2 separate regions of the Homo sapiens genome follow, and region 1 is linked to region 2. Evidence: fine-mapped expression QTL. A gene starts in region 2. The other region holds a variant in brackets. All regions are shown on one strand. Distances are between the middles of the regions.

Region 1 (2,500 bases), 21 kb after region 2:
TTCACCATTGCCAGCTGCTGGACATTAGACTCTGTCCAGTTTTTCACTGGCTGGACAGTGCTGTGCCTGACTCAGTGCACTTTTGGGGCCACCAGCCCCATGACAGGTGCCCTTTCCTGCACTCCAGCCTCTAGGACCTTTTGGCCTTTCCCCAGTTTGAGAGCTGCAGGCCCCAGGGTTTCTCTGAGTTGTCATAGGCAGTTGTGGCTGCGTCTCTTCCTCTGTGAATACAGGTTCCTTTAGCAGCCAACTCTGGGGTCCTTTCCCAGCACAGATGTCCAGAGAGAGGCACACGGTGGCTGTGGGCCTTGGGGGGTTCTGGGCTCCCTGCCTGGTCTGGCCCAGCGGGTGCCTGGGATGGCCTTGGTGCTCCTGTTCTCACCTGTACTCTCTGCCCCCAGGGAAGGCTACAACAATCCCCCCATCTCAGGTGAGAATCTGATTGGCCTGAGCAGAGCCCGGCGCCCCCACAATGCCATCTTTGTCAACTTTGAGGATGAGGAGGTGCCCAAGCAGCCACTGGAGGCTGCAGCCCAGACGTGGAGGAGAGTCTGCACTAACCCCGTGGACCGGAAGGTGGAGGAGGAGCTGAGGAAGGCAAGTCCTGCGCTGCGCCTGGCCCCGGTGGCTCCAGCCTCTCTGTTGGCTTCCCGTGTTTACCCAGCTGCTCCCTGTTCCTGGCTGTGGGGTTGGCTGCACTGACCTTTACCCATTCCTTAGTGCATGGGAACTTCTCACCTTCAGATGCCATGTCTAAAGGCTGTGTCGGTATAAGTTCTACATTCCCAAGGTTGAAAATGCTTCTTAGAGTTCTTAAGAAAAATATGCGTGCGTTGTTCAGATGTGACATAAACGTGGAGCTCTGGGATCCACTGAGCTCTTATTCTTCCATTCACTCATTGCAGCCAAGCCAGTGGGGCACCTAGTGTGCCAGGCCCAGCACTTTCTTACCGTTAGAACTGGAACCGTGCTGCCAGGCAGCCCTCCTTCCCCGGGCTTGCGGGTGCCGTGGAGTCCTGCGTCCCCACTGGCATGAGCATCAGGTTCACAGGCCACTGCCACCTGGAGCCCGGCGCTTCCCTTACGCAGTGTGCCTGTGGGAGACCACGTGGATGTCTTGTTGATTTCCAGCAGTCACTGGGGCACACTGTCAGTGGCTCCTTATTGCCCACCAGGCACAGCCCACATTCCTGACCTGAATTGGCTCGTGAGGCCCGCTGCCCCAGCCCCCTGGCCCTCTACACTCCGGCCACACTGACCTTTGCAGTCCTCCCCGGGCCAGGCTGTCCCCTTCAGCCCTGACGATGTCCCACCTCAGGCACCTGTTCTGTAGATTGGGGCAGCATGGGGACCCTGGGACTCTAGCATGTGCCCCCTGAGCCGTACTCCCCACCGCGCTGTGGGCTCTATGAGGACAGCGACCATGTCTCTTATCGTTTGAGAGACCCAGCCCCACAACTGCACTTGGCACAGGCTGGGCATGCAGCCCAGGCTTCTGAGGGAAGGGATGAATTAGTGAGAGCAGGAG[G/T]TCCTAGGGCCACGCCCTGTGTGTCCAGCCCCTGTCCTCTACCAGCTCCTCTCTGGAGGGGCCGCTGGGGCCCAGAACATGTTGGGAGTTCAGGGCCGAAGGGTGGAAGCTGCTGGTGCTCATCTCAGCCTCTGCCCTTGGCCTCCCCAGCTGTTTGACATCCGTCCCATCTGGTCCCGAAATGCTGTCAAGGCCAACATCAGCGTCCACCCAGACAAGCTCAAGGTCTTGCTTCCCTTCATAGCCTATTACATGGTAAGTGTCAGCTGCCCACCCACCTGCCTTGGTTTCCACCCATGTGGTCCCTGGTCCCTGCTGTGATGTCTTAGAGCCACAGTAAGAGCAGCCAACCCCCTATCCTGGCTCCCCATCCTTCCTGCCCCACCCCCATCCTGGCCCATCCTTCCTACCCACCCCTGGCCTGGCCCTCATCCTTCCTGCCCTGCCCCCAACCTAGCACCTCCCCCGTCCTGGCACCCCCATCCTTCCTTCCCCCCTGTCCTGGCCCCCCGATCCTAGCATCCCTAAGACAGCTTATTAAAGCCAGCTAGAAAAGTTTCAGCTCCCTGAGTCCAGGGCGCCCTCCACAGCCTGTTGGGCTGCAGAACCCAGCCCCTGACCACAGCGGCCCCATGTCGTCCTCTACCTGTGTTGAGTGGGGTTCAGTGGGAGGCAGATCCACCTTTGATCCACAAGCATGTAAAGACACATGTCATTACTGAGGTTCCAAAGGTGCTGGTTGGAAAGGGATCCTCCCCGCTGCCAGGCCTCACAGAGCATTAGGGGAGGCCAGCGTAAGACATGACTGTGAGGGTCTGCAACAGGCAGTAGGACACAAGAAAGACTCATTTCTTCTGCCTTGTTGGACTTCCGGCTCAGGAGAGCGACCTGTGCTGCTTGGCGTTGGCATTTTATTTTATTTTATTTATTTTATTTATTTTGAGATGGAGTCTCACTCTGTCTCCCAGGCTG
Region 2 (2,991 bases):
TCCCGCCTCAGCCTCCCAAAGTGCTGGGATTACAGGCGTGAGCCACTGTGCTGGGCCATGATTCTCATCTCCCAATATTCTCAAACCCAGTCCCTTCATCTCTTGACTGGATTATGCAGTCTCGGAGCTGGTTTATCTGAACTCACTTTCTCCCCCTTTGATCTGTTCTCCACACAACAGCCAGAGAGGTCTTTCAAATGCATGAATGGGATCACTGCTCCGCATAAAACCCTTCAAGGGGCCAGGCGCGGTGGCTCACGCCTGTAATCCCAGGACTTGGGGAGGCCGAAGCAGGCGGATCATTTGAGGTCAAGAGTTCAAGACCAGCCTGGCCAACATGGTGAAACCTCGTCTCTACTAAAAATACAAAAATTAACCGGGCATGGTGGCAGGCGCCTGTAATCCCAGCTATTCGGGAGGCTGAGGCACGAGAATAGCTTGAACCCGAGGCGGAGGTTGCAGTGAGCCGAGAAAGCGCCACTGCATTCTAGCCTGGGCGACACAGCGAGATTCCTTCTCAAAAAAAGAAACCTTCAGGGGCTCTCCACGGCACTGGGAAGCAGCCAGCCCGACGGGTGGACCCTTTTCGTGGGTGCGGGTCTCTGACCTCGGTCGGCCTCGGACCTCATCTCCTCCCTGTTTGAGGGGCCACACTCCTCGCTCCGGGGCTTTGCAGCAGCCCTGGGCGCCTACCGGACAGACGCCGTTCTCCCCGCCTGGGTCTTGAGTAGGGCCCAGCACACAGTAGGCGCTTAATGTCTGCCTGCCTAACAGACGAACGCCGGATGCCCGCGTTCGGCCCCGAGCCGGCGCTTCGGGGCTTTCTGTGGAGGCGGGGCGATGGTTACAGCACAGTTCCCCCGCGCTCGCCTTTTCCACATCCACCTCCGCGAGGCCCCCCGCAAGCGCCGTTGGAAACCTAGTCCCGAGGGGGCTGCAAGAGCTTGGGAGAAGAAGCGCCAACACCGACAGAATACCAGGCCGACCCAATGCGGAAATCAATTCTCAGCCGGGACCTTTTCCCCACCAAGCAGGCGGGCCGGAAGTCTGCCTCTGGCCCGCCCCCGAGGTGTCATTGGGTGGAATACCCAGAAGAGGGCTGGGACGTGGTTAACTCTAGTTCTTTATTGGTTAAAACGTACGAAGCTGGAGGAGAAGGTGGGACCTAGCTTCCTCCGGACTTCTCATTGGCTCAAAAAAAAACTCGCTCGGCCCTCGGATTCTCATTGGCTGAAGTCGAGGGAGGTTTGTGTCTTATTATCCTCCGGGTCCCTCGCTGGCTAGTAGGAGAGACTGGTGCTTGCCCCGCCCGGTGGACTAACTCGCTTAATTTTAAATAAAAAGTCGAGGACACGGCGGTCGTTTTCCCGAAGACATGGGCCCTCCCATGGGCCATTTGCTCCCTGGAGGCCCTCGCGTCTTGCTGAGCCCGGGGAGTTAGGATGACGCGAGCGGTGAGGGAGCCCGGAACGATTCCTTCGCGGAACAATTGAGGCGAGGCCTTTGGGAGTACTTTGTGGGACGGACCCTGGCGGGCCCTGCCAGACGCACAGGGATGGCGGCGGAGGCGGCCGATTTGGGGCTGGGGGCCGCCGTCCCCGTGGAGCTGAGGCGGGAGCGACGCATGGTGTGCGTGGAGTACCCGGGAGTGGTGCGTGATGTGGCTAAGATGCTGCCGACTCTGGGCGGCGAGGAAGGCGTCTCCCGGGTAAGGGGCTGGGAATCTCGGTGTTGGAATAAGAGCTCGGAGTCGCAAAGAAAACGAGCACTCAAAGGATTTCTCAGCAAGGGAAATTTAGCAAATTTACTTACGCAGAAGGGTGCTGCTCGCTCTTCTGGCCGCTGCAAGAGAGCCAACAGAACAAAGAAGGGAAGGATTTTTGTTTTTGTTTTTGTTTTTTTGTTGGTTTTTCAGGCGGAGTTTCGCTCTTGTTTCCCAGGCTGGTGTGCGGTGGTGCGATTTTGGCTCACTGCAACCTCCGCCTCCAGGGTTCAAGCGATTCTCCTGCCTCAGCCTCCAGAGTAGCTGGGATTACAGGCGCATGCCACCACGCCCGGCTAAATTTGTATTTTTTAGTAGAGAGGGGGTTTCACCATGTTGGTCAGGCTTGTTGGAAATAAATTTTGGGTGCCGCAAAGAAGAATCAGCACTCTGGCAAACAGTTTTCTCAGCAAGGCAAATTTCCTTCTATAGAAGGGTGCATCTTGCGGATGGAGCAATGGCGAGAGCACACCGACAAGGAAGGGGAAGGGGTTCCTATCTCTTACACAGCTAGTCTCTACTGCTGTGTCTTTCCCATATTGGCTAGGGTTGGACCGCACAGTCTAAGCTAATTCCGATTGGTTATTTCAAAGAGGGCAGGGGCACAGGCCTGAGTGGCGGGGTGAGTAGTTTTGGTGGGAAGGATGGTTACAGAGCAGGTGACTCAGGATGACTAAGGACAGAGCAGGTGATAGAAGCTAGGAAGGGGTTGTTTACTGAAACTAGGGGCAAGGAGGCGTAAAGAACGAGGGGTTAAACTTTAAAATGGAGAACAAAGAACAGGGAAGCTGAACATACTGACATATTGGTTCTTTGAAATGGAACTCATAACTCATTGTATTTATTAATTTTCCCCCTCTTGAATTTAAAGGAAGGTAAAAGGCTAAAATCTTTGAAGTGGAATTTACTGTGTCCTATAGGCTGGTCTTGAACTCCTGAGCTCAGGTGATCCACCCGTCTTGGCCTCCCAAAGTGCTGGGATTATAGGCGTGAGCCACCGTGCCCAGCCTGGAATGGGTTTTTATCCCTAAGGCAGTCAGTCCCTGTTTTTGTGTCCTGTCCCTGCTGGTTGGAGTTGGACCACACAATCTAAGCTAATCTCAATTGGCTATTTTAAATAGAACAGGGGTGTGGGTTACAGTGACGGGACGAGCGATTTCGGTGGGAAGACTAGTTTCGGCGGGAAGGGCAGTTAAACAGAGCGGGTAACTAAGGGCAAGGAGGCACAA

What was found. PIP is the estimated chance that this variant, and not a neighbour inherited with it, causes the effect.
Region 1: its variant is fine-mapped to the expression of GTF3C5 in whole blood (TOPMed, PIP above 0.99).

The regions. Positions count from the first base shown.
Region 1 is chr9:133,050,382-133,052,881 of GRCh38, forward strand. GTF3C5 (general transcription factor IIIC subunit 5) reads left to right here. Exons shown (of 11, transcript NM_012087.4): 4 at 402-597; 5 at 1,679-1,783. It overlaps MIR6877 (microRNA 6877), which reads left to right and starts at 1,615; the gene lies at 1,615-1,678. The variant G/T (reference allele first, on the strand shown) is at 1,529.
Region 2 is chr9:133,029,457-133,032,447 of GRCh38, forward strand. It overlaps GTF3C5 (general transcription factor IIIC subunit 5), which reads left to right and starts at 1,541. Exons shown (of 11, transcript NM_012087.4): 1 at 1,541-1,708. The coding sequence starts at 1,556. LOC105376306 (a long non-coding RNA gene) reads right to left here and starts at 966. Exons shown (of 2, transcript NR_135119.1): 1 at 694-966. RefSeq lists enhancers at 722-971, 1,206-1,857, 1,302-1,561.